Linked DNA regions of Homo sapiens. The protein of the gene in region 1 interacts with the protein of each later gene in a biochemical or structural test. Each region holds a gene or a part of one and is shown in the gene's direction. Other genes may lie near its edges.

Region 1 (6,410 bases):
GGTTCACTGCAACCTCCGCCTCCCAGGTTCAAGTGATTCTCCTGCCTCAGCCTCCCAAGTAGCTGGGACTACAGGCATGCACCACCACGCCCAGCTAATTTTTGTATTTTTAGTAGAGACGGGGTTTCACCATGTTGGCCAGGATGGTCTCAATCTCTTAACCTCATGATCCGCCTGCCTTGGCCGCCCAAAGTGCTGGGATTACAGGCATGAGACACCGCGCCCGGCCTGTTTTTGTTTTTTGAGATGGGGTCTCTCGCTCTGTCGCCAGGCTGGAGTGTAGTGACACAATCTTGGCTCACTACAACCTCCACCTCCCTGGTTCAAGCAATTCTCATGCCTCAGCCTCCCACGTAGCTGGACTACAGACACGTGCCACCATACCCAGCTAATTTTTTTGTATTTTGTAATTTTTGTATTTTGTATTTTTTGTATTTTTTTTTTTTGTAGAGATGGGGTTTCACCATATTGCCCAGGCTGGTCTACAACTCCTGGACTCAAGTGATCTGCCTGCCTTGGCCTCCCCAAGTGCTGTGATTACAGGTGTGGGCCACCACACCTGGCCTATTTTTTGTTGTTGTTGTTTTTTGTTTGTTTTCAGCATTTTTTGTTGTTTTTCTGAGAAAGGGCCTCTGTCACTCAAACGATCCTTCCTGAGTAGTTGGGACTATAGGTGTGTGCCACCAAAGCCAGCGAATTTTCTTATTTTTTTTTTTTTTTGAGACAGAGTCTCACTCTTGTCACGCAGGCTGGAGTGCAGTGGCATGATCTTGGCTCACTGAAACCTCTGCCTCCCGGATTCAAGCAATTCTTGTGCCTCAGCCTCCCAAGTAGCTGAGATTACAGAATGCACCACCACACCCAGCTAACTTCTGTATTTTTAGTAGAGACAGGGTTTTGCCATGTTGGCCAGGCTGGTCTCGAACTCCTGGCCTCAAGTGATCTGCCCACCTCAGCCTCCCAAAGTGTTGGGATTACAGGCGTGAGCCACTGTGCCTGGCCTAATTTTCTCATTTTTGTAGAGACGGGGTCTCACTATGTGGCCCAGGCTGGTCTCAAACTTCTGGGCTCAAATGATTTTCCAACCTGGGCCTCCCAAAGTGCTAGGATTACACTATTACTCCTTCTTAAATTTCTTTGAAACTCTGCTCATGGATTTTCTGTATTTATTATCTAAGTAATACATCTATGTAATAAGGCTATAAATCTGATTTTTTTTTTTTTTAAAGAAATGGATCTTATTTTGTCACCGAGGCTGGAATGCAGAGCTGCAATCACAGCTCACTGCAGCCTTGAACTCTTGGGCTCAAGCAATTCTCCAGTCTGGGCCCCCCAAAGTGCTGGGATTACAGGTATGAACCACCACACCTGGCCTGCCATGGCCCCCCTCCCAAGTTTTCTTTCTTTTTTTTTTTTTTTTGATGGAGTCTCGCTCTGTCGCCCAGGCTGGAGTGCAGTGGCGCGATCTCCATTTACTGCAAGCTCCGCCTCCCAGGTTCGAGCCATTCTCCTGCCTCAGCCTCCCGAGTAGCTGGAACTACAGGCGCCCGCCACCACGCCCAGCTAATTTTTTGTATTTTTAGTAGAGACGGGGTTTCACCATGTTAGCCAGGATGGTCTCGATCTCCTGACCTCGTGATCCGCCTGCCTTGGCCTCCCAAAGTGCTGGGATTACAGGCGTGAGCCACTGCGCCCGGCCACCAAGTTTTCTTAGCATATGTATCCTCATTTTTTGTTTGAACTAAATAATTTTTATTTATATATGACTTCATATTTAGAATAGGTTTAAATTTCCACACAGCTGGAGCTTACGCGGCTTTTGTCTGTGGCCAAAGAATATGGTTGAAACTGATTTGATATCTGTTGAGATTTGTCGTGCACCCTAGTAGTTGGGTCATTTTTGTAAATGTTCCTTGTGTGATTGAAAATAATGTGTTGGTCTCACACAGGTCTGAAATTTAAATTTTAAAAGTTAAAAAACTAACTGTCAGGTTTTCTATTGGGGTTCATTGATCTTGATTAGTAACTGTATTAACATCCTCTATGTCCTTTTTTTTTTGGTTGTTTGGTTTATTAGTTACTCAAAGAGGTCTTATGTCTCCCTATGATGGAGGACCTGGCAATTTCTCCTTGTGTTCTTAATATATTTTCAGCCTCTTTTTTTTTTTTTTCGAGACAGAGTCTCACTCTGTTGCCCAGGCTGGAGGGCAGTGGCGCAATCTCAGCTCACTGCAACCTCCGCCTAGCAGGTTCAAGCAATTCTTGTGCCTCAGCCACCTGAGTAGTTGGGATGACAGGCGTGCACCACCACGCCCAGCTAGCTAATCTTTGTATTTTTAGTAGAGACAGAGTTTTGCCATGTTGGCCAGGCTGGTCTTGAATTCCCAGCCTCTAGTGATCCACCCACCTCGGCCTCCCAAAGTGCTGGGATTACTGGCATGAGCCACTGCGCCTGGCCTATTTTCAGCCTTAAAAACAAAAACCCTGGAACATAGAAGTTCAGAACTTTCCTCTCTTCACAGAGTTCCTCCTCGCATCATTTCATGTTGATCCTCTTATCCCCAGTGTCTTCTGCCTGAAGGCCTATTTTGTCTGAGTTTTCTATAGGTACATCTTTTGGTTAGTTTTTCTCTAGTACACCTTTTCCCATCGTTTTACTTTTTGGTGCCCTTAGGTTTTAAATTTCCTCTTGTAAATAGCATAGAGCTGCATCTTATTTTTTCTTGGCCAATCTGGTCATCTGTGTTTTAAGAGGTGAATGTAAACCACATTTTCTACCTCTGGTTTTGTACTATATATTTACCATCCCTTTTACTTTGCTTCCTTTTTCTCCCTTTCTGCCTTCCATTATAGTTTTAATACCCATCACTACCCTTTTCTCTGCATTGGCAGTTATAGTTCCGTTTGTATTCTTTTGGTGATCCTCTTAAATATCTGAAATACACACCTGACTTTACAAAGCCAGACAATGCTCAGTCTCTTTAACCCCCTCTCAAATTGCCCTCTCAGTCTTCCATGTTCTTGTGTCTCATGCATCTTGTTTCTGTGGCCCACAAATTAATCATTATTATTCATATTGCATATTAAATGCTTGTTTAGATTCACATGTTTACCAATTTGCTCACCATTTTTCCATCTAATTTCTTCCTTTTGGGTTCCATGTCCTTGTTACTAAACTACATTCTTTAAAAATTATTTCGGCGGCCAGGCGTGGTGGCTCACACCTGTAATCCCAGCACTTTGGGAGGCCGAGGCGAGTGGATCACGAGGTCAGGAGATCGAGACCATCCTGGCCAACATGGTGAAACTCCATCTCTACTAAAAATACAATAATTAGCTGGGGGTGGTGGCAGGCGCCTGTAATCCCAGCTACTGAGGAGGCTGACTGAGGCAGGAGAATCGCTTGAACCCGGGAGGCAGAGGTTGCAGTGAGCTGAGATCGCACCACTGCACCCCAGCCTGGCGACAGAACGAGACTTCGTCCCCCTCCCCCCTCCCCCAAAAAAATGTTGATCTTCAGTCTGCGCATTCTGCTCTGGATTTTAAGCATCATTTCTGGCAGCTCTTTTTCAGGAACTGTCTCTGCAGGTCTTTCAGTGTTCGCCTCTGGAGCTCTGCTCGGGCCCGCGAGTTCTCCTGGCGTTGCCATCTGTGCCCTTTTCCTTATTCCCCATCACCTGTCTCTCTGGTGAGCTGCTTCCGATCAGCCTCCAGGTCCACGATTTCTCTTCTGTTGTCCTTTTCTGCCTTCTCACCTCATCCTCTGAGACCTGAATTTCGATGGCTCTACTTTTCAATTATATTATTCTTTTTCAAACCTGGGCGTTCATTTCTAGCATCCTGTTCTATCCTGTGTCTGACTGTGCCTCCCGCACCTTCTCCCTTCTCTCGCCCTAAGCCCCGTGAAGGCGCCGGGCCTTTGGCTCCGGCTGTTTCCCACGGCGCCCAGAACCGCGTCAGTCCTGACACAGACTCGGTGAGGGCGGGAAGTGGTGCCGTGGGGCTGCAGCCTGGCCCGCCCGCTCCATCGGCCTAGGGCGGCCCCACCGCCCTCCGGGCCTTACCTTGAGTTCGGGCTGCGGGAGAAGCTCCCGCGCTGCCCATGACGTCACGGGACTGTGACGCGCCCAGAAGCCCCGCCCCTCGCGTCCCGGTCCGCGGACCCAGGCTCTCTGCGCCGTGACGTCACGGGTCCGGGCGGGCGGGTTGTGCGTCGGCCCAATGGGAGCGGCGCACTGGCCTCCCCTTTAAGGAATGTTGTGACCTGACGTCACCGGGCGAGTTACCTCCCGCAGCCGCAGCCGCCGTGCTCAGCGCGAGCCCCGGAGCCCTTGAGCGCGAGGCGCGGAGCCCCCGGAGCCCCCAAACCGCAGACACATCCCCGCGCCCCAGAGCCCCGGCCTGCGCGCCCAGCCGGGCCCGCGCGATGCCCTCAGACCGGCCTTTCAAGCAGCGGCGGAGCTTCGGTGAGGCCCGGCAGGCGAGCTGCGAGCTCTGGGGCAGGGGTGCCGGCCGACCCCGACTGCCGCAGGTGACGTCAGCCCCGTGACGTCAGGCTCTGGCTGGACCCTCGGGCTGGGACCAGCTCCGGCCTGGGCGGGGGCTGCCCGCTTCCCCACCGCGATAGGTGCCAGGGGCTGTGGGGCCTGATGGCCCCGGGGGTGGGGGCTGGAGCTGGGGCGTGGCCGGGGGCCGCCCCTCCGGGACAGGCGGGGCGGACCTGGGCCGGCCCGACCCGGCCTCACGGTCTGGCCGCTGTCCGCAGCCGACCGCTGTAAGGAGGTACAGCAGATCCGCGACCAGCACCCCAGCAAAATCCCGGTGAGTCCCGCACCCCCAGCCCTGCCCCGCCCCCGCCTCGCGCGTTCCCGACACGACCCCCTGCCCGCCCGCCCTGCTCCCAGGTGATCATCGAGCGCTACAAGGGTGAGAAGCAGCTGCCCGTCCTGGACAAGACCAAGTTTTTGGTCCCGGACCATGTCAACATGAGCGAGTTGGTCAAGATCATCCGGTGCGTGGGCAGCCGCCGCCAGGAGGTGGCTAGGGTCGGGAGGGGAGCCGGGTTCCCGCCGAGAAGGGGTGGGAGTGGGGTCAGGGGTGATGGGACCGGGCGGTGGGCCCCTGTTCTGGGGTGGCTGGAAAGGTCAAGGTCGGGGCTGCAGTCGGTGTTGGGTCAGAGGTGACAGCTGGGGTGAGAATGGGTGTGAAAGGCTGGGAATCATTCTGGGGGTCAGGGCTATGTCCGTCCCGCAGCCAAGCCCCTCACAGCTGCATACTCTCCCGCCGGCTGCAGGCGCCGCCTGCAGCTGAACCCCACGCAGGCCTTCTTCCTGCTGGTGAACCAGCACAGCATGGTGAGTGTGTCCACGCCCATCGCGGACATCTACGAGCAGGAGAAAGACGAGGACGGCTTCCTCTATATGGTCTACGCCTCCCAGGAAACCTTCGGCTTCTGAGCCAGCAGTAGGGGGGCTCGGCCTGGGAGTCGGGCGGCCCCGGTCAGGCCCTGCCCAGAGAGCTCCTGGTTCCTGAACTGAGCTGCCTCTACCGTGGTGGGCTGGGCAGGCATGTGCCCCCCTAGTCAGAGGGCACCAACCCACCTACTCTGCCCCTGGGTGGATCCTGGGCCGGTCGTGTTAGGGTTGTCCCTCTGGGTGCTGGCTGGTGGGATGGGGGAGGGTGGGGAGCAGCTCCCAGCACCCCTGCTGTGTGGTTCATCTTTTTTTTAGGCCCCTGCCTGTCTGCCCATCTGCCCCTCACCCACCCGAGGCTCTGCCCACCGCCTGGACCTGCCCACCCCTGAAAGACTGGCCCCTGGCTCCCCGCCCCTCGGTCTCCACGTGGTGTATGGATCTGTGGTCATTGTCCCTCTGCAGAATAAAGATTGCTCAGGCCTGCCTGGCCCTGTGCCTCCAGCCGCTTGCTTGGGAGTGGGGAGGGTGCTGGTGGGGCTGCCCGCACCATCCCCGGGCTCTGGCGCACAGACTTGTGTTCTGTGGCCGCGGTGCTCGCTCTGGAAACCCACACCTGTGTGTAGTGTTCCAGAACATTATTAGGGGCCACCCCCTCTAGGAGTGCAATGCAGATGTGGTCTCAGGGTAGACTTCATAACAAAAAACATTTATTAAGTAGCCACAATCTAACAAGCCCTGCTCACCTGCCTCTTCTCCTTCCTGTCTGGGAGGGGGCTCCTTGGTGTGCAGAGCCACAAGGTGGGGGTCCAAGTTGGGGAGCTCCCAGTTCTTCCCCATAGGCCTTGCTGTCAGTCAGCCATGGGTCCCTTTTGGTACCAGAGACTTGTGACCCTGGACTCGAACCTCTTCTGCCCAAGCACTCGCCTGCTGGCAACTCTGGCTGGAGGGCTTGGCCCAGCTTCTGGCCCCACAGCCCCCTGAGGTCCATGCAGCCCT
Region 2 (7,024 bases), on another chromosome or scaffold:
TCCTCCTAGATTCCTAGATGCAGGGGAGGCCTCTGATTTATTGCCCAAGGCAAAGGAGGGTATGATAGCAATCAAACAAGGCCAGTGGGTGGCTATCTACAAGGAACACATTTTCTAACAAGTTATAATGCTTTCTATGTAATAGTGGAGGAGAGAGAAAAATGTTTAAATTTTTTGTCTGATTACTTGGCTCAGTTTGGCATTAATAATCTGTCTATACGTTTGGGTAATTCTGTAGTTTTTTTTTTTTTTTTGAGACGGAGTCTCGCTCTGTCACCCAGGCTGGAGTGCAATGGTGCGATGTCGGCTCACTGCAAGCTCTGCCTCCCAGGTTCATGCCATTCTCCTGCCTCAGCCTCCTGAGTAGCCGGGACTACAGGCACCCACCACCACACCCGGCTAATTTTTTGTATTTTTAGTAGAGAGGGGGTTTCACCGTGTTAGCCAGGATGGTCTTGATCTCCTGACCTCGTGATCCGCCCGCCTCGGCCTCCCAAAGTGCTGGGATTACAGGCATGAGCCACCGCATGCAGCCTGTAGGCTCTTTACTGGGATAAATTGTAAGCATTGCTAGTTAAAGATTTCTAGTTACTTGAACGTCAGTACGCTTTCTGTACCAAGAATTCTCATAGTAGAACATGCTGACAGTTTGCATTTAATGAGAAAAATAACATTAGCTCTTACTTAAAGTTTTAAGGTTTGCCTAGAGTCAGTATGTGTGTTGGTCTTGCTGCCTTGTTTACTGAGCATTCTTAGCCTGACTTAAAAAAAATTGTAAGTATCTACTTTTTAAAATCTTCAGACACCAAGGACTTTATGTTTAATTTAATGGAGGTCATTTCTATCCTGAAAAGAATCCTAAGAAATGCAAGCTTTTTGACTTTTGAAAATGACCTGATAAAGTTTCTTAGAATTCGTGAGGTCCGGCCGGGTGCAGTGGTTCATGCCTGTAATTCTAGCGATTTGGGAGGCCGAGGTAGGCGGATTGCCTGAGCTCAGGAGTTTGAGACCAGCTTGGGCAACATAGTTAAACCCCGTATCTACTAAAATTAAAAAAAAAAATTAGCTGTGCATGGCAGCCTGTAGTCCCAACTACTCGGGAGGCTGAGGCAGAAGAATTGCTTGAACCTGGGAGGTGGAGGTTGCAGTGAGCTGAGATCGTCGTGCCGTTGCACTCCAGCCTGTGTGACAGAGCAAGACTGTCTCCAAAAAAAAAAAAAAAAAGATTTTGTGAGTTTCTTCATCTTGAATTGTTTAACCTTTTACTAAATATCGGTTATGACAAATCATTTAAGTACAAAGAAGAGAAAATAATCTCTGGAGGTGTTTTTGCTTTCCTTCTGCTGTTTTTTAGGACTCATAGGACTAGACAGTTCATTAATTTCAGCTTTGCAGTTCATTTTGCCATTGTGAAGAGGGAATTTTTTCTTAGTTGATCAATGAATAGCAGAATTAGAGACCGCAGAGATTACAATTATTAGACTTTCTCATCTGTACACATGATTACATATACATTTACATTTTAAAACTCATCTAGTATGATTTCATTTATATGAAAAGTCCAGACTAGGAAAATCCACAGAGACAGAAAATAGATTAGTGGTTGCCAGGGGATGAGAAGAGGGGGAATGGGGAGTCTCTGCTAATATGTATGAGATTTCTTTTTGGAGTGATGAAAATATTCTGGAATTAATAGTGATGATGGTACAACCATATCACTATACTAAAAAGAAACCACTAAATTGTATACTTTTTAACATGGTGAATTTTATGGAACGTAAATTATATCTCAATAAAAAGTCATCTAACAACCATCCAATTTTAATTCTTAGCAAGATTCAAGAAGAAATATTAATTAGCTACATAAACTGCATTCATATTCAGTGGTCACAGGCTTGTAGGCAAGCTGCCAAATACCCACATATGTCTGGAATGCTACCATGAATTTAATTAAGGCCCCAAAAGCTGTAAGAATTCTGAAGCAAGAGCCATTAGCGTGAGTGGGAACAGTGTCAAAGACAGCCTCACAAATCCTTTCCCCTGGATCTCCTACCCTGGTGGGGGATCGGTCAGATATACCCGTGAAGATGTAACCTCTTCTATTCACCCATCCAGCTTACTACTTAGAGCCTCTCCATGGCTCTAATCATGCACTCGCTTTATCTCTGCTCTGTCCACAAAGTGAGCTGCCTGGTGTCTGGGACTGGGGTTTATTCATCTTATTGTCAGTGTCTTATGTTTTGCCTTGTACATAGCAAGGGCTTGATAGTTGTTGACTTAAATCCACTAAGCCATTTACAAAAGCAATATTGTATTATTTCAGGCATGCATACATATGTGAATAGCACAGCTTCCTTAATAACATGTAATTTATTTGATTGTGAAGAGAATGGTAACTGTTTGGAAGTTGTGCTTCTGTAGATAGTACATTAAGTATCTATGGTCAGTGGAAAAAAGCTTAAGTTTTGGAAGCAGAGTTCTGATCTCTTCTCTGCCCCTTGCCATCTTTTTTGTTGTTGTTTAGGTTTTTTACCCCTTTGTAAGATTCAGTTTTCTGTTTATAAAATGGGATAATAGTAAATACCTCCCAGGGGGGTTTTGTAGGTTAAAGGATGATGATGATAATATCAATTACATATTGCACATTTTCTGTTAGCAAGTGGTCAATAAAGTATATTATGTTTGTCATCATATTATTAGTGGTGGTATATGAGACTATTTTGGGAATACAAAAGTCCTTTATTTGATCATGAGTTCTGTTGGGGATGAGGATATTTGATAAGCTGGACAGACTTTGTTTGCATAGCTTTGCTATCTTAATTGGCCTTGAGAAGCTACATTAATAGATGCATTTCACCTTAAGTTAATGGTGCTATTCTAATAACTTATTTATACTTTTTTTTCTAGGATCTAAAGAAGTACCACTTCTACTATTGGTTTTGCTATCCTGCCCTCTGTCTTCCAGAGAGTTTACCTCTCATTCAGGGGCCAGTGGGTTTGGATCAAAGGTTTTCACTAAAACAGGTATCAACAAATAACCAAAATGCACATAAAATTGGGTTGAATGTGCAAGAGTAGTTATGTAGTTCTTTCCAAAGACAAACAGGCACTTCTCTGGATGAAGACGTGGTAACTGAAATCCTCCAAAGGTGGTACTAGGAGCAGACTTATTTAGAAAATGTTTGTAAAGTCATTTTTTTGTATATATATTTATATATGTTTTGAGACTGGGTCTCACCCCCATTACGCAGGCTGGAGTGCAGTGGCACGATCACTGCTCACTGTAGCTTCAACTTCTCAGGCTCAGGTGATCCTCTCATCTCAGCCTCCTGAGCACCTGGGACTACAGGCATCCCATCACACCTGGCTAATGTTTGTCTTTTAATAGATATGGGGTTTTGCCATGTTGGCCAGGCTGGTCTTCAACACCTGGGCTCAAGCAATCTGTCCACCTCAGCCTCCCAAAGTGCTGGGATTACAGGCATGAGCCACCCTGCCTGGTCTGTAAAGTCATTTTGAAGATGTAGTGCACAGTAATTTTCCAGGTTTTCAGTGGTATTTGGTGAAATGCTAAGCCAGTAAGGGGGAATTATAGGAATATTTTGAAACACTGAAAGAATTTACCAAAATGTGGTCTTCATTTTCAATGTGGGGAAACATAAGGCAGTATAGTCTGGGAAAGAGTCTTTGAAACAAAACAGAAGGCATTCTCCTACCCTTGTACCAAGTTGCAGAACTTTTCTACCTGGAGCAGTACATGCAGAGTTAGTCGGTGACATTTGGGATAGATAATAAGTTCATTAGAGATGGTTCCCAGAAGAGCAGTTAAAATAATCAGGCTGGTATAACAGAGACCCTAAACTAGAGAATTCTTATTGTTGTTAAGGCAAAGATTATGTGTCAAGATGATTTGAATTCTTGAAACACATCAATCACTAAAGCCCTGAATACTGATGCCATCATTCAGGGAGCTCTCTTGGAGCTGTTCAGGGAGCAGCCATTATTGATTAAATTTTTTTTGTTGTTGTTCGTACAAATCCGAGGTTGTGGTTTTGTGGAACTAATTTCCCAAGAGGAAATATAAGTAAGGAAAAAGGATTTTGGCTGAGTATTGACTGCTGGCAGGTATGGGGTTTCTTTTATTGAGGACAAAAATGTTCTGTAATTATTGCTGTGGTGCTTGCATAACCCTGTGAACATACTAAAAAAACAAACAGCACATTGCATTATGTACTTTAAATGGGTGAATTGGGCCAGGCACGGTGGCTCACAACTATAGTGTAATTCCAGCACTTTGGAACGCAGAGGTGAGCATACCACTTGAGCTCAGGAGTTCAAGACCAGCCTGGGCAATATCGTGAAACCCCATCGCTATAAAAAATACCAAAAAAGTTAGCTGAGCCATGGTGGTGTGTGCCTGTGGTCCCAGCTACTCAGGAGGCTGAGGTAGGAGGATTGATTGAGCCCAGGAGGTCGAGGCTGCAGTGAGCTGTGATTGCCTGGGTGACAGAGCAAGACCCTGTCTCAAAAAGTAGTAAATGGGTGAGTTGTATGGTATGTTAGTCATGTCTCAGTAAAGCTGTTGAAGATTATGGAAAGGTTCGGGGTAAAATTCATCAGGGGTAGATTCATGTTGGGTTATCATAGGAGAGAAAGAATGTTTCGTTACCGCTCTAAAACTCTGATTGACAGCTTAGGGAACTACCATGTTGTAGTCCCTTTGTGCCCCTAAGACACACACCACCATGCCCCTGGAAAGTGTTATATAAAAGCTAAGTGGTATTATTTGGAGGCACTTCTATGTTCACTTGCTGTAATAGAGTAAGAGGAGTGTGATCAGTCATTTCTAGTCTTCTGGTTTTAAGGTACCTTTTTTTTGAGTTAGTTTTTAGCCCAGAACTAGAAATGTAATTTTCTAGAGAATAACAACGTGTTTTCTGTTTTCAGATTGAAGCACTAGAGTGTGCATATGATAATCTTTGTCAAACAGAAGGAGTCACAGCTCTTCCTTACTTCTTAATCAAGTATGATGAGAACATGGTGCTGGTTTCCTTGCTTAAACACTACAGTGATTTCTTCCAAGGTCAAAGGACGAAGGTCAGATAAACTTTGAGTATCATTTTATTATATAGTTTTTTAAAAAATCTGAAGTTCATGTTACAAGAGACCACTGCAAAATTCAAACTTGTTTAGATTTCCTTAGCCTTCAAAGGATGTTTAAGAACATTTCCTTATCTCTATCCTCTCCCACCCCTACAGTTATCGAATCAGCTCCTCTAGGTTTTTCTAGCTCTACTACAGCTCAGAATAATTTTGATACCTTACTCTTTTTTTTTGTTTGTTTGTTTGAGATGGAGTCTCGCACTGTTGCCTGGGCTGGAGCGCAGTGGCGCAATCTTGGCTTACTGCAACCTCTGCCTTCCTGGTTCAAGCGATTCTCCTGGTCAGCCTCCCGAGTAGCTGGGACTATAGGTGCCCGCCACCATGCCTGGCTAATTTTTTGTATTTTTAGTAGAGACAGAGACGAGGTTTCACTATGTTGGCCAGGTTGGTCTTGAATGCGTGACCTGCTTCGGCCTCCCAAACTGCTGGGATTATAGGTGTGAGCCACTGTGCCCAGCCAATACCTTACTCTCTATTAGTGCTAAAGTTATTTCCGTTTTCCCTCCTGATGTATTTTACCCTCTATGTTTTAATTTTTATTCCCAGAACTACCCTGTAGTTCAGGCCCCTCATATCACACTCCTGGACACTTAGAATCTTGTTTCCATGTTGTGCAACACTACTGTAGAAGAATCTCCCTTGAACTACCCACATTTAGTGTATCATTCATTGACCAAGAGCATAATGGTGTCTTCCTTCTGGCTCCAAGCTGCCTTTCCTGCCTTATCTTCCATTATTTTCCTCATAAAGCATTGCTCCAGCTAATCTTATCTATTTTTCTCCAGAATCTCCATCCCCTTCCCGTCAGATACATCTAAAACTTTTTTTGTATCTTTGTTTTTCCTCGTGTTGTATCATCTTCCTAAAACATGTTCTACTTGTGAAAACCCTAAGAAATTCTCTCTGTCTTATTGAAATTCTATCTCCACTGTGAAGCATTATCATGGTGTGGCCATATATGATCTATCCCTATCTGAAGTCACTGCATTTATTCCCTGATCCTCATTTGCAGGTCCAGTACCTTGTACAAGTTTCTTTTTGTGCCATATTAGACTGTAAGCTCCAAGAGGGCAGGGCCCAAGTCTTATGAATTTGTGTCTGCATAGTGTCTAGTACTTGTCTGAGGCCCTCAATAAAATTCTTTTGAGTGAATGAAAGAGTACCGTAAATGTCTTTTAGAAGTGATCAGATATATAGGAAGTTGTCTTAGCCATACAGGAGACTATGAATTAAAAATATCAAAGATTATGAGTGTTATGAAGTTCTGAAATCAAATGGAATCATCTCCATAGCCATGTGAATATATCAGAGCTGAAAAAAGGAAAGCCTTTAACTGACGGTCTGGTTATTCTTTAGCCTGAACTTAGGATGACTTTTTTTTTTAAAAGCACATTTTAAAATCAACTACATTTACATTTTATTTTTCAGAGGAAGCCCACCTCCCCTTTTTTGTTGTATTTTTATTAGAGATGGGGTTTCACCGTGTTAGCCAGGATGGTCTTGATCTCCTGGCCTTGTGATCCGCCCACCTCGGCCTCCCAAAGTGCTGAGATTACAGGCGTGAGCCACCACTCCTGGCCCAGAGGAAGCCCTTTTTAAATTGAGGACTGAAGATTGAATTTTTATTAAAATTCTTTCCCCCAGGTGATTTCACAGAACCACAGCTAAATTAGTATAGCAATAAGACCGTTAATAATTTAAAGTCCAATCTAGTGTGAAGTCCTCTTGTCATAGCAGGCAGGATTAAATGGCCTGTGTTTGGAAGCGACCGTAGGTCAGGTTGTATGTGGTAAATAAGTGGTCCTCCCCAAAGTGCAGCTCTGCCAAAATAATAACAGTTTGAACAGTGCTTTACAATTAA
Region 3 (7,892 bases), about 31 Mb from region 1:
TCCCAGCACTTTGTGAGGCCAAGGCAGGTGGATCACAAGGTCAGGAGATCGAGACCATCCTGGCCAACATGGTGAAACCCCGTCTCTACTAAAAATACAAAAATTAGCTGGGTGTGGTGGAGCATGCCTGTAATCCCAGCTACTCAGGAGGCTGGGGCAGGAGAATCGCTTGAACCAGGGAGTTGGAGGTTGCAGTGAGCCAAGATCATGCCACTGTACTCCAGCCTGGTGACAGAGTGAGACTCCGTCTCAAAAAAAAAAAAAAAAAAAAGAGTCAAGTCATACACTTAAGTTTGATATATTTCACTGAATGTAAACTGTGCTTCAAGAAACAAAACCCTTCCATGCACAAAACACCTAGGGTGACATCTGTTTCCTGCACTGAATATCTGATTTTGGGAGAGGAGCCCTAGGACAAGAGACAGCAAGAGGGGCTGAGAGCAAGCAGGGCACCAGAAGCTGGGAGCGTGGAGGGACGTGACCAGGGAGAAGTCCCCTGTGTTGGGGGAGGCCTGTGAATTTTAGGAACTCTGATATCTAACTCTCAAGGCATGTCCTTGCCAAGCAGCAATACAATTAAGTGTGCCTAATCTTATGGCTCCCACACTTTCAATTGTTCTTCCTGAAACAATTAGATATGAAGCCGCAAGAGCCCAGGCAGGGCTGGATTGATTCTTGAACTAATCAACATTTATGCCCTCTTGGCTAAACTAGGCAGAGTTGGTTTTATTACAGTTCAGATGTGATTAAGCACACTGTATTGTGTCAGCGGCAGGTGACGAGCCACACAGTGTCCTGAGGCCTGATGAAAGGGCTATGCCAACCACAGTCCCAGAGGAGGAGCTGGCTGTAGCAGCGACTGACCCAGGAGCTGAAGTGAGCCAAGCCCCCTCCTCCTGAGACCCCTGAGAGGTAAGGCAGGCTCATGCCAGACCCTATTACGTCCCACATCATGGCTAGAACCAGAACCATCTTACATGGCTGGTCAAGGCAAGGATAACCCCAGGAAGTCAGAGGACTTGGAGACTCTGTATTGTAGGAAAAAAAAAAAATACTAGAAAAGACACTGGAGCGTCACCAGCAGTCACCCCTGGATGGTGGCATTATTATTATTAGTAGTATTTTTTTTGAGATGGAGTCACTCTGTCGCCCAGGCTGGAGTGCAGTGGCATGATCTTGGCTCACTGTAACCTCCGTTTCCTGGGTTCAGGCAATTCTCCTGCCTTAGTCTCCTGAGTAGCTGGGATTACAGATGTGTGCCACCATGACTGGCTAATTTTTGTAGATGGTGGCATTATGAATATGGATTTTGGTTTTCATCATCAAATATTTCTGTTTTCCCCACATTAGCTGTAAACAGTATATATTTTTGGTAAATTAAGTTGAAAGAATGAAAAAATTAAAATAGTATAAAGAATATCTGTTTAAGTGCAGTGGAGTGTGCCTGTGGTCCTAGCTACTTCGGAGGCTTAGATGGAAGGATTGCTTGAGCCCAGGAGTTCAAGACCAACCAGAGCAATGTAGCAAGACTGTGTCTGTTTTATTTTAAAAATAAATAAATAAAACATAAAGAATAACTGTTTAAAATACTATTCAAAATGAAGTCATAAAGGAGGGGATTATGTTTTTTAGTCATAGTTCCCTCAAGGGCTCAGACCGGAGAACATAACCGAGTTTGGAGCCCTCTGGCACTGTCTTTGCGCCTGACCTCTGCTCTCCAGGGGGTGACGTGAGCTGGTGGGTGCTGAGTCATCATGGGTGGGTCACAGCCTCCCTCGGAGGCCTGGAGATGGGCCTGTCTGTGCTGAACTTTACTGGGCAGGGGGCAGCTCCAAGGCCCTCACTGGGGGCAGCCTAGAGCATAGATCACTCTCTGGACTTGCTCTTCTCCTAATAAATGGACAGTGATCAATGAATTACACCCATGAAATAGGGTGGGATGCAATAAGAAATAAAAGATAATATAAATAGCCAGATAGGGTCAAAAGATGATTTATTTTACTTTATATTTTTGAAATAATTTCAGATTTACAACATAGTTGCAAAAATAATGCAAATGTTTACATCTTACATAACCCAGTACAATGATCCTAACACTGACAGATTGTTGTTGTTGTTGTTAATTTGAGACAGAGTTTCACTGTTGTTGCCCAAGCTGGAGTGCAATGGTGCGATCTCGGCTCACTGCCGCCTCTGCCTCCCGGGTTCAAGCGATTCTCCTACCTCAGCCTCCTGAGTAGCTGGGATTGCAGGTGCCCACCACCATGCCTGGCTGATTTTTGTATTTTTAGTAGAGACAGGGTTTCACCATGTTGTCCAGGCTGGTTTCAAACTCCTGACCTCAGGTGATCCACCCACCTCGGCGTCCCAAAGTGCTGGAATTAGAGGCGTGAGCCACCATGCCCAGCTAGATTATTGTTAACTGATCCAAAAGCCTTATTTGGATTTCACCTGAAGTCCTTTTTCTGTTTCAGGATCCAACCCAGGTTCCCATATTGCATTCAGTTGTCATGTCACTTTGGTGTCCTTTTCTCTGGAGCAGTCTCTCAGTCTCCTTGTTTTTCCTGACCTTGAAATTTTTGAAGAGTTATTCTGCAGAGCAGTGCTATCCAATAGAACTTTCAGTGATGATAGAAATGCTCTGTTTGGGCCTGACGCTGTGGCTCACACCTGTAATCCCAGAACTTTGGGAGGCTGAGGCAGGCAGATCACCTGAGGTCGGGAGTTTGAGACCAACCTGGCCAAGGTGGAGAAACCCCGTGTCTACTAAAAATGCAAAATTAGCTGGGCATGGTGGTGCATGCCTATAATCCCAGCTACTCGGGAGGCTGAGGCAGGAGAATCGCTTGAACCTGGGAGGCAGAGGTTGTGGTGAGCCGAGATCACGCCATTGTACTCCAACCTCAACAACAAGAGTGAAACTCTGTCTCAAAACAAAACAAACAAAAAAAATAGAAATGCTCTGTGTCACCGAGTATGAAGCCATTAGCTACATGAAAATAGCATTTGAAATGTGGCTCATGGGCCAGGTGCAGTGGCTCACGCCTGTAATCCCAGCACTTTGGGAGGCCAAGGTGGGTGGATCACTTGAGGTCAGGAGTTTGAGACCTGCCTGGCCCATATGGTGAAACCTCGTCTCTACTAAAAATACAAAAATTGGCCGGGCGTGGTGACATGCGCCTGTAGTCCCAGCTACTCGTGAGGCTGAGGCAGGAGAATCACTTGAACCCGGGAGGCGGAGGTTGCAGTGAGCCGAGATTGGGCCACTGCACTCCAGCCTGGGTGAAAGAGTGAGATTCTGTTTCAAAAAAAAAAAAAAAAAAAAAAAAGAGAAATGTGGCTCGTGGGTCTCAGGAACTGGCTTCTAAGTATTATTTAATTTTAATTAAAATAGCTACATGTGGCTAGTAGCCATTGTATTGGATAGGACAGCTGTCAAATGTCTCTCGTTTTGGGTTTGCTTACTGTTTCCCTATGATTAGTTTCAGATCATGAGCTTTTGATAGGAATACCATAAGCATGTTGTTGTGTTCTTCTTTGTCTAAATCTTTATAAAAGCTGTTGATAGGTGGCAGGGAACCACCTAGTCAGGCAGTGGGATTGTTTGAATGCTCTTTGAGGTCCAGCAAAGACAGGAGTGATAGCTGCACTTGGAAGCCCGCTCCTACACTTTCAATGTTCTTCCTGAAAGAATTAGATATGAAGCTGCTAGAGCTGCTCCGGTGGGGAGCAGGCAGGATTGATTCTTGAACTAATCAACATTTATGCCCTCTTGGCTAAACTAGGCAGAGCTGGTTTTATTACAGTTCAGGTGTGATTAAGCATACTTTGTAAATGCTGAAGGTTGTGAAATATTCACAGGGATATAAAGTACAGTAATAAAACCTCACTTGAGGCTGGGCGTAGTGGCTCACGCCTGTAATCCCAGCACTTTGGGAGGCCGAGGTGGGAGGATCACCTGAGGTCAGGAGTTTGAGACCAGCCTGGCCAACATGGTGAAACTCCGTCTCTACTAAAAATACAAAAATTAGCCGGGCGCAGTGGCATGTGCCTGTAATCTCAGCTACTTGGGAGGCTGAGGCAGGAGAATTGCTTGAACCCAGGAGGTGGAGGTTGCAGTGAGCCGAGATCGCGCCATTGTACTCCAGCCTGGGCGACAGAGCATGACTCTGTCTCAAAAAAAAAAAAAAAAAAAAAGAATAGAAGACCCTGTGCCTGGAAGATCGTAGGTGCTCAGTAAGTGCTGGCCTCTGCCCCAGAAGGGGAAGGGCGAGGCAGATGGCAGGAACTGCGGGAGGTACCTGTCCCAGGCCCTTGGGCGTAAGAGGCCTCTCCCACGCAGCACCCAACCCATACCCAGCCTGCCCGCCAGCCAACCTTGGCGTCCCTGCCTTGCGCCTACCTACCCAGCAGTCCCCCGCCCGCTCCCACTCCCACAGGCCCAGCGTGCACGTCTCCAGGATAGGCATCCTTGCCCCTGTGACTTCAGCGGCACCCAACGTTTATTGGGCACTAACTGTATGCCAGGCCATGGGGGTGCCGGAGAGAACGACACGAAGACCCTCACCCCTCAAAGTTCCCAGGGGGAGGAGGGGCTGCTTCACTTGGGAAGCGTGGGGATGGAATTCTCAGCCCCCCGATGACTCCGAGGCCGGCCACCTGCCTGGTTTCTGGCCGGACACCGGACTTCCCCTGGAAGTTGCTCGAGACTGCGCGCCCCCAGCAAAAAATCAGGTCGGTTCTCCGAGCCCAGTCTAGCGCTTCCCGACCCGCAAACCAAGGCCCAGTGACCGTCCCCGCTGCGCAGCCGCCTGCGTCGCCAGCCAACCACGCGCGGCCGAGTAGCCCCGCCCCTCCACATGGCCAATGGCCGCGCGCTCTGCCCGCCCCGCCTCCTCGCTGCGGGAAGGGTCCTGGGCCCCGGGCGGCGGTCGCCAGGTCTCAGGGCCGGGGGTACCCGAGGTAAGATCGCTTCCCGGGCGTTGGGTCCTTTCGGCTCAGCACGCACGGACGCCTTTAGGGAAGGTGGCTGCAGCGGCAGGACGGAGTCCGCCGGGACGCCCTGGGTCTGGGGTGCGCGGGGGGCCCAGGAGGGGACAGGACGCGCGGGGATCCGGAAGAGCGGGCCCTGTCGCAAGAGTTTCGGGAACACTGAGGGCTCCAGGCGCCGCATCCAGCATCCGGGGAAAAGGGGGTAGGTGGCGCTGGGCGTCTGCTCAGGCTGGGGGAAAGGTAGGGCCAGAAGGGGACGGGCAGCGGCCGCTGACCTCCTCCTGCCGCCCGCGGGCCCAGGGTGACGCTAAGGTGGGGCCGAGCCTCGACCGGGTGCGCCTAGAGGTCGAGTGCTGCCGCCCTCCGCTGGGTCTGGACAGTTCTCGGCGGCGACACCAGCTCAAAACGGCCTCCCCGCCCTCCGCGGACCTGGGTCGCGCCCAGGAATCCGATCCAAGGCTGTGAGGCCTGTCCCTTTGGGAAGGGTGGGTGTTTATTTCCGGGATGCACTCAGAGCCTCTGGACAGTCAGGTCGGAAACTTTGCTGTATTGGGAACACTCTGTCACCTACTTCCTTCTCAGTTGGGAAGGAAGTGCCAAGAAAACATGAAACAAACCAAAAACACGAAAAAGGGATTCTCTGTATGGAAGCCGTGAAGCCTCAAAAATATCTAGGAGGACAGCCAGCGACCTGGGACCTGTGGCAGCCATGTGAAAGCAGGGTTAATGTCTGGACTAAATGTTGCTTCCACCTAAGTGCACCCTCAGCCTCCCTCCCGCCAAGTGACCTTGGGTCCTCTTTGGGCTTGAAGGCAGGTGGCTGTGTGGGTCTCGCTGCAGGGGTCTCTGTGCCCTGCAAGGTGTATGACCAGTTGCAGTGAGGCAGCAGGTTTTGGGTTCAAATCCTGTGCTAGCCTCTGGCCAGCTGTGCACCTTGGCAACACTTTCCCTGTCACGGGATTGGGGAAGGATTAACTGAAAGAACCTTAGGATGTGCCTGTCTACAATGGGCCCTCCATAAATGTGAACAAATGTGGGCTTCCTTTCCTTTTGTTTGGGCCACATCATCCCTTCCCCTCCATCTGTGGCTGAAGCTGGAATGCAGAAGAGTGCCTCATCTGACTGCCTTCTGGTACCTGGCTGATGCCATGAGAAAGGAAGGAGAAAGGGGTCTTTTTTTTTTTGAAATGGAGTCTCACTCTCTTGCCCAGGCTGGAGCGCAGTGGTCCAATCTTGGCTCACTGCAACCTCTGCCTCCTGGGTCTAGAGATTCTCCTGCCTCAGCCTCCTGAGTAGCTGGGACTACAGGTGTGTGCCACCATGCCTGGCTAATTTTTGCATTTTTAGTAGAGACGGGGTTTCACCATGTTGGCCAGGCTGGTCTCAAACTCCTGACCTCAAGTGATCTGCCTGCCTCGGCCTCCCAAAGTGCTGGGATTCCAGGCGTGAGCCACCGCGCCCGGCCGAGAAAGGGATCTATTAACTCCCATAGAGTTGTTCTTTGCTAATTTCTTGAAGGCTCAGAGGACCCCCGCCTCACCTTCCTGATTCTCCTGACCTGTCATTAGTACTTGCCCCACGAGGAATGTAGCAGGGCCTGCTGGCTGGCAAAGCAACTCATGCATGTGAGGCTCTGAGGCCAGTGACAGGACTGCTTCCCCTGTGAGGAAGGTCTGGTGGCCCAACAGCTTTTAGGTGCTGTCTGCTCTACAGCACTGCCTCCTGAGAGAGGTCTCATGCCTGCCTGATGCCCACTTGGTCCTCTCCTGCCTCCTTCCCTCCCTGACAACCCACTTGGAATCCAATAGCATCTCAAACTTCACTTGTTCCGAACTGAGTTCTGGAGTCCCTTCTGAGCCACTGCTCCTCCCCTGGCTTCTCTGGCCTGGTAAAAGGGCACCTTCCATCCACCCAGTGCCCAAGGAGTCATGCTTCTTTTCTCTCCCTTATCTCCTACACCCTCAAAACACCAGGAATCTGGCTGCCTCCTGCCATCTCTGTGGTTCCCATCCTGACCATAGTCATCCTGTCTCCTGGGCTGTGGCCTCCTTACTGGTCTCCCAGTTTTCATCCTGGCCCCTCCAAAGTCCTCACAACCACCAGAGAAGTCTTTAATGTAAATCAGATCCTCTTCTTTCCCTGCCGGAACCTTCCAGTGGTTCCCTGTTTCACTCCAACTAAAACCCAGAGTCCTTTCCTACAGCACTCTACATGAGTGGCCCCTGCCACCTCCTTGACCTTGACAATCTCTGCCCCTTTCCCTAGCTTGCTTGCTTTTTTTTTTTTTTTTCCTATGATGGAGTTTTGATCTTGTCACCCAGGCTGGAGTGCAATGGGATGATTTCAGCTCACTGCAACCTCTGCCTCCTGGGTTCAAGCGATTCTCCTGCCTCAGCCTCCCGAGTAGCTGGGATTACAGGCGCCCACCACCATGCTAATTTTTGTATTTTTAGTAGAGAAAGGGTTTCACCATGTTGGCGAGGCTGGTCTCAACCTCCTGAGCTCAGGTGATCCACCCGCCTAGGCCTCCCAAAGTGCTGGGATTATAGGCGTGAGTCACGCAGCCAGCCATCCCTAGCTTTCTTGACCTAGACCACACTGACCTGCTTTCTATTCTTCAAACATGCCAAGCTCATTCTTGTTTTAGGACTTTTGCATTTACCATGCTCTCTGCCTAAAACACCAATCTTCTCAGAGCCTGAGAACAGCTCAGCTGTGTTCTGCACGCTAGTTCAGAAAGGCTTCTTTGACCCCCTAGTTCAAGTAGCATGCCTGTCTCCAGGGGCTCTGTCTCATTACCTGCTTTACTTTCTTTAGAGCCTTTATTGCTATCTGGAACTCTTATTTGGGTATTAATTTACTGATCTGTTATTTGTCCCACCCCATTAGAATATAAATTG
Region 4 (7,024 bases), on another chromosome or scaffold:
GATTTGCATTTCTCTAATGACCAGTGATGATGAGCTTTTTTTCATAGGTTTGTTGGCCGAATAAATGTCTTCTTTTGAGAATTGTCTGTTCATATCCTTTACCCACTTTTTGATGGGGTTGTTTTTTTCTTGTAAATTTGTTTAAGTTCCTTATAGATTCTGGATATTAGCCCTTTGTCAGATGGATGGATTGCAAAAGTTTTCTCTCATTGTGTAGGTTGCCCGTTCACTCTGATGATAGTTTCTTTTGCTGTGCAGAAGCTCTTTAGTTTAATTAGATCCCATTGTCAATTTTGGCTTTTGTTGCCACTGCTTTTGGTGTTTTAGTCATGAAGTCTTTGCCCCTGCCTATGTCCTAAATGGTATTGCCTAGGTTTTCTTCTAGGGTTTTTATGGTTTTAGATCTTATGTTTAAGTCTTTAATCCACCTTGAGTTAATTTTTGTATAAGGTGTAAGGAAGGGGTCCAGTTTCAGTTTTCTACATATGGCTAGCCAGTTTTCCCAGCACCGTTTATTAAATAGGGAATCCTTTCCCCATTGCCTGTTTCAGTCTATCCAATTTCTAGATTTATTTCTCATTGTCTTTGTTGTAAGATTTGCACATTTATCAGAGATTTGGGAATTAGTGTGCTCCTCTCTCTGACTTTTGAAACTGGTAATAGTTTACTTCTGTAGAAGGGGAGCAGGCTAGAGACTTTGTTTTCCTTTAGTACGCCTTCATACTGTGACTTTTTAAAAAATTATATACTTGTATGATTTCACAAAAGAAACCTCAAAATAATACACTCCAGGAAAAGTATTTTAAATAGAAAAAGTAACCTCTAACATCTCGGCTTGTGTTTTCTCCCAGTCGTTTCCACTTGTTCCATGTGACACAGACCAGCCTCAAGACAAGCCCCCAGACTGGTTCACAAGCTACCTGGAGACGGTGAGTGTTCTGTCTCGCTTGGGTTTTAACTGCGGTGTTGGCACAGGTGGAATGTGGAAGAAATAGAAAACTGAACCCAGGTGGCTGCTGCCTCTAGTACCGGTGAAGAGTGGTAGCTTATAATTTCCAAACTTAGAACAGTTCCAGTCGAGAAAGCTCTAACCTTTGCAGTGAAGTGTCAGAAAAAGAGGGAGTCTAATTCTAAGCATGTAAGGGAGAGGGACAACTCTCTGCTTGAGAAAAAGTTAGAAATTTACTTATCAAAAGGATGTTTTGATATTTTCTTCGAACCAGTTTAGCTGTGGAAGGAATAGACCTTTTGCTATGTTTCTGTCTATTCAGTAGCAGTTGTTTATTGTGTTTTTGTATTATACCAGAGACAGTTAGGTTTCAGATCTATTGATATCTTCACATTTTTTTCTGATATTGGAACTGAGTTTTTTCCCTACCTTCTGCTCCATATTCTAGTTCAGAGAACAAGTGGTTAACGAAACGGTTGAGAAGCTTGAACAGAAATTACATGAAAAGCTTGTCCTCCAGAACCCATCCTTGGGTTCTTGTCCCTCAGAAGTCTCAATGCCTACTTCAGAAGAAACATTGTTTTTGCCAGAAAACCAGTTCAGCTGGCATATTGCTTGCAACAACTGCCAAAGAAGGATTGTTGGTGTCCGCTACCAGTGTAGGTAAGCAGTTGCTTGGGAGTAGCTAGCTAGTGATAGACCTTACAGCTTTTACCTCCCTGGCTTTCTGTGTAGGTAAAGGGAAATTAATTGTACCCTGTTTCTGAGCATTAGATGTTGTAGCTGTGAGTTGGAAGCACAAGCTACTCTTCACCCACATGCTTTGTATGTTGTAACTATTCAGATTGTTGTGTTCAAATGTGCATTTGGATTAGCAAAGCCAGGCAAAATTATGTTCCCCTGAACGGACAAAATTAGATCACTAAGGGTAGTTCCTCGGTTGTTCCAAATGCCTTTTTTTTTTTTTTTTTGGTGACAGGGTCTCTGTCACCCAGGCTGGAGTGCAGGGTGCAATCATGGTTCACTGCAGCCTCACCCTCCCAGGCTCAGACAATCCTCCCACTTCAGCCTGCCAAGTAGCTGGGATCACAGACTGCCTTTTAATTATTTTTTTGGAGATGGGGTCTCCCTATATTGCCCAGGCTAGTCTCAAACTACTGGACTCAAATGATCCTCTTCTCCATGGCCTCCCAAAGTGCTGGGATTACAGACATGAGCCACTGTGCCTGGCCCCATGTACTTTCACATCTTACCTTCCTCCCATAGATTTTCATTTAAAATGGATATGGGTTAAGTGTTATTATCCTCATTTTATTAATGAGGAAAATTGAGGCATGGCATAGTCAGATGGCATGCTCAGGTTACCTGCTAGTTGGTACTGGAGCAAACATAGAAGTATGGTCTTATATCTCCCTACCCCAGGTACTTCCTATTCTGCCATTGTGTATTGTGCCATTCTTTCCCCACAGCCTATGCCCATCCTACAATATCTGTGAAGATTGTGAAGCAGGGCCATATGGCCATGACACTAACCACGTCCTGCTGAAGTTGCGGAGACCTGTTGTGGGCTCCTCTGAACCGTTCTGTCACTCAAAGTACTCTACTCCTCGTCTTCCTGCTGCTCTGGAACAAGTCAGGTAAAACCCTCTACATGGAGATGCTTATTCTCTGATTGACTTCTTGGTTCTGGTGACAGGGTATGAATCACAAAACTACAGATAGTCTCCTTAGTTCTGCTCATTTTCAATTGATGTGCAATAATGAAGACAGTTATCCAAAGTTAGTGAAATAGAAATAATAGCTATAAAAAGAAATTAAGAAACTAAAGTAGGCTGGGCACAATGGCCCATAACTGTTATCTCAGCAACTTGAGGGGCTAAGGTGGGAGGAGTGCTTGAAGCCAAATATTTGAGACCAGCCTGGGCAACATAGCAAGATCCCGCCTCTACAAAAAAAATTTAAAAATTAGCCAGGCGTGGTGGTGCGTACCTATAGTTTCAGCTACTTGGGAGTCTGAGGTGAGCAGATTGCTTGAGCCCAGGAATATGAGGTGGAAGGGAGCCATGATTAGACCACTGTACTCCAGCCTACATGACAGAGTGAGACCCTAATTCTAAAACAAAAAAAGAAATTAAACTGGAAGCTGACACTGATGGAAATTGCAATTGGCTCCACATAGCTTCAGAATTTATTTGTGACTTTCTTTTAAGACTTGCTTTTATTATCTCACAGGCTCCAGAAACAGGTTGATAAGAACTTTCTTAAAGCAGAAAAGCAAAGGTTGCGAGCTGAGAAGAAACAACGTAAAGCAGAGGTCAAGGAACTTAAAAAGCAGCTTAAACTCCATAGGAAAATTCACCTGTGGAATTCAATCCATGGACTCCAGAGCCCCAAGTCTCCTTTAGGCCGACCTGAGAGCTTGCTCCAGTCTAATACCCTGATGTAAGCCCAGGACTGGGGTGGGAGCCAAAACTTTAGGCCCAGCTCTCTGAAACTGGAACTTCAACCAATTTCCGTCTTATTTATTGGTAGCCCTTAACACCTAAATCTTTAAAACTTTCCATTATCTGGTCTTAGTATTTTTTGTTTGTTTGTTTTTTGAGACAGAGTCTTGCTCTGTCACCCAGGCGGTAGTGCAGTGGTGCGATCTCGGCTCACTGCCAGCTCTGCTTTCGGGTTCACGCCATTCTCCTGCCTCAGCCTCCTGAGTAGCTGGGACTACAAGCACCCGCCACCACGCCTGGCTAATTTTTTGTATTTTTAGTAGAGATGGGGTTTCACCGTGTTAGCCAGGATGGTCTCGATCTCTTGACCTCGTGATCCGCCCGCCTTGGACTCCCAAAGTGTTGGGATTACAGGCATGAGCCACACAGCACCCGGCTTTTTTTTTTTTTTTTTTGAGATGGAGTCTCGCTCTGTCGCCCAGGCTGGAGTGCAGTGGCATGATCTAGGCTCACTGCAACCTCTGCCTCCCGGGTTCAAGTGATTCTCCTGCCTCAGCCTCCTGAGTAGCTAGGATTACAGGTGCATGCCACCATGCCCGGCTAATTTTTGTATTTTTTCAGTAGAGATGGGGTTTCATCCTGTTGGTCAGGCTGGTCTCGAACTCCTGACCTCATGAATCCGCCCGCCTTGGCCTCCCAAAATGGTGAGATAACAGGTGTGAGCCACTGCGCCTGCCTGGCGTGGTCTTAGTATTATTAAAGGGTGGTTTGGTAGTTTTTTGTTTGTTTTGTTTTTGAGACGGAGTCTTGGAGTCTCGCCTGTTGCCCAGGCTGGAGTGCAGTGGCGCGATCTCGGCTCACTGCAAGCTCCACCTCCTGGGTTCACGCCATTCTCCTGCCTCAGCCTCCCGAGTAACTGGGACTACAGGTGCCCGCCACCACACCCAGCTAATTTTTTGTATTTTTTAGTAGAAACAGGGTTTCACCGTGTTAGCCAGGATGGTCTCGATCTCCTGACCTCGTGATCTATCTGCCTTGGCCTCCCAAAGTGCTGGGATGACAGGCGTGAGCCACCGCGCCTGGCCAAGTTTCGTAGTTATTTTTGACACTTGTTTTGTTTCCTTCTTCAGAAAGATAGAAACCACTAAAGTTCAAAATGGCGGGGTCCCTCTCTTCATTGGAGGCAATCTGGAATTGAAGCAAAAGGAACAAATGTGTTAAAAGCCTGACTCTCTAGGTGTTGTATTTATAGGCCCTTTTAATTACTCTTACCATGACTTTTTTAGCTCAGGAGTGAGACCTATCCTCTGTTTTGTTTTATTGTTTTAAGTTTGTCAGAAAATTTATTGTTTCTAATATGTGGTCCTATACTAGTAATATCAGTATTATTTTTAAGGCAAATGGGTTAGCACATTTTCAAGAGTCACAGTCAGACTCTCAAGCTAGTGTGAGGTATTCAGAAGCCTTCACACCCAACAGCAAGTGACTAAGCATCTGAATTTCTGTTCAGGCTCCCTTTGCAGCCCTGTACCTCCGTTATGCCAATGCTCAGTGCAGCATTTGTGGATGAGAATTTGCCTGATGGGACTCACCTTCAGCCAGGAACCAAGTTTATCAAACACTGGAGGATGAAAAATACAGGAAATGTAAAGTGGAGTGCAGACACAAAGGTAATTTTTCCCACAAAATGCAAAGATGAGGTGATTTGAAGTGGCAGAGTGCTCAGCTGACAAGCTTGCTTTCTCTTCTTACTGTTCTTTTCAGCTCAAGTTCATGTGGGGAAACCTGACTTTGGCTTCCACAGAAAAGAAGGATGTTTTGGTTCCCTGCCTCAAGGCCGGCCATGTGGGAGTTGTATCTGTGGAGTTCATTGCCCCAGCCTTGGAGGGAACGTATACTTCCCATTGGCGTCTTTCTCACAAAGGCCAGCAATTTGGGCCTCGGGTCTGGTGCAGTATCATAGTAGATCCTTTCCCCTCCGAAGAGAGCCCTGATAACATTGAAAAGGGCATGATCAGCTCAAGCAAAACTGATGATCTCACCTGCCAGCAAGAGGTGAGCATTGACTGACAGGCTTTGGCCTAGTATCCAAATCTTAGTTAGAGAGGAGATGGCTAAAACTAAAAGAACCCACTCATAGCTGGTTGTTTTCCAGAAACCTTGAAAGGTTAGCATCTCCCCCCGCCCCAACACATCTCTATGCTGATATTTGGCCTCTTCCTTAGGGTGTTTGTTTTAGCGTCTTTAGGGTCTTGCTGCATACTGAATACTTTTGTACCTCTTTGTGATGTTGCATGGTCAGCCTGTTGGCTGCACAAGGGAAAAAGGGACTCCTGGCCTGGGCTGGCCTGTGGAACTGCTGAACTGATAGCTTTACTCCTTAACATCCATCTCTCCTGAAATACCCTGTGTATGTTCCCTAAATACTAATGAAGTCTTGCCCTGGTTGCTACTTAGTGAACAGTTTTTTAATGCAATTTCTCTGTATTAGTGGGGCAGAGTGTTTACTGCTTAAAGTTATCCAATGTTAATTTTCTGGTTTTGACTATTATAGTTAATATAAGTTATCGTCATTAGGGGAAGCTGGGGAATGTGAATTCTCTCTGCTGTTTTTACAACTTTTTCTATAACTGTAAAAATATATCAAAAACATTGTTTTTTAAAATATGGAGGTACAGCAGCGTTTTTATTTTTGGGGGCATTGTCAGCCTGCCTCTTCAGTTCTGTTGAAGGCCTAAAATTTGTCTCAATGGTTTGTCTCTATAGGAAACTTTTCTTCTGGCTAAAGAAGAAAGACAGCTTGGTGAAGTGACTGAGCAGACAGAAGGGACAGCAGCCTGCATCCCACAGAAGGCAAAAAATGTTGCCAGTGAGAGGGAGCTCTACATCCCATCTGTGGATCTTCTGACTGCCCAGGTGGAAGATTCAGCACTTTGAAGGGCAAGGGACAGAGGGAGAGAGCACAGGAGAGAAGGTGGTAGAGCCATAGGCAGTAATCAGGAAATCAGAGATATGCCCACTTTGATCTAGTCAGGTATATTTAATGGGAAGGAGATCACCCATGGAAGCAAGTTTGTAAACTAGATGTTTCCTCTTTGAATTGGGAACTCAATCCTGTACTTCCCCACAAACTCCCTTTAGTTGCCTCTTCACCTTGGCCTAGCTAATTCTCCTTCATACCTGCTGCATTTTCTCTTTCCTGCTATTGGGTTATTTCAACATCTAATTCCCATTTAACTCTTCTTGTTTTCACTTGTCTGGGGACAGGCATGAATTTGAACAGAGTTGAATACGAAATGATGTGGAAATGGTCTACAGGTCCCATCAAGACATGGCTCCAGCATGCACTCCAAACAGCCTAACATTGTCTTTTTTTATAGGACCTGCTGTCCTTTGAGCTGTTGGATATAAACATTGTTCAAGAGTTGGAGAGAGTGCCCCACAACACCCCTGTGGGTAAGAATGTCACTCATTTCATCTTGTTCGTCTTACTAATAGGCACAAAAGTACCACAGCCTAGACACTGGTAGTGTTTTATTCTGAGGAAATGGCAAGGATTTCTCCCACAGTAGGATAGTAAAGCAGCAATCATGGATCCGTTTTTCTTCTTTCCTGTCCTTTGTCAAAAGTA

What was found.
Region 2: the proteins of MAP1LC3A (region 1) and ATG7 form a complex in vitro, tested with the Homo sapiens proteins (2 studies listed by BioGRID, with this or other methods).
Region 3: the proteins of MAP1LC3A (region 1) and MAVS form a complex in vitro, tested with the Homo sapiens proteins (2 studies listed by BioGRID and IntAct, with this or other methods).
Region 4: the proteins of MAP1LC3A (region 1) and NBR1 form a complex in vitro, tested with the Homo sapiens proteins (2 studies listed by BioGRID and IntAct).

Annotation. Positions count from the first base shown.
Region 1 is NC_000020.11:34,554,443-34,560,852, forward strand, and holds MAP1LC3A (microtubule-associated protein 1 light chain 3 alpha), read left to right. Parts: upstream 1-4,275; 5' UTR 4,276-4,295; coding exon of another isoform or gene 4,296-4,426; coding exon 4,427-4,466; intron 4,467-4,765; coding exon 4,766-4,821; intron 4,822-4,904; coding exon 4,905-5,011; intron 5,012-5,293; coding exon 5,294-5,456; 3' UTR 5,457-5,903; downstream 5,904-6,410. UniProt on the Homo sapiens protein: Ubiquitin-like modifier involved in formation of autophagosomal vacuoles (autophagosomes). While LC3s are involved in elongation of the phagophore membrane, the GABARAP/GATE-16 subfamily is essential for a later stage in autophagosome maturation.
Region 2 is NC_000003.12:11,310,397-11,317,420, forward strand, and holds part of ATG7 (ubiquitin-like modifier-activating enzyme ATG7), read left to right. Parts: intron 1-2,907; coding exon 2,908-3,024; intron 3,025-4,947; coding exon 4,948-5,097; intron 5,098-7,024. UniProt on the Homo sapiens protein: E1-like activating enzyme involved in the 2 ubiquitin-like systems required for cytoplasm to vacuole transport (Cvt) and autophagy.
Region 3 is NC_000020.11:3,841,942-3,849,833, forward strand, and holds the start of MAVS (mitochondrial antiviral-signaling protein), read left to right. Parts: upstream 1-4,892; 5' UTR 4,893-4,962; intron 4,963-7,892.
Region 4 is NC_000017.11:43,188,191-43,195,214, forward strand, and holds part of NBR1 (next to BRCA1 gene 1 protein), read left to right. Parts: intron 1-851; coding exon 852-929; intron 930-1,397; coding exon 1,398-1,612; intron 1,613-2,418; coding exon 2,419-2,586; intron 2,587-3,181; coding exon 3,182-3,391; intron 3,392-4,903; coding exon 4,904-5,063; intron 5,064-5,157; coding exon 5,158-5,448; intron 5,449-6,159; coding exon 6,160-6,309; intron 6,310-6,773; coding exon 6,774-6,849; intron 6,850-7,024. UniProt on the Homo sapiens protein: Ubiquitin-binding autophagy adapter that participates in different processes including host defense or intracellular homeostasis.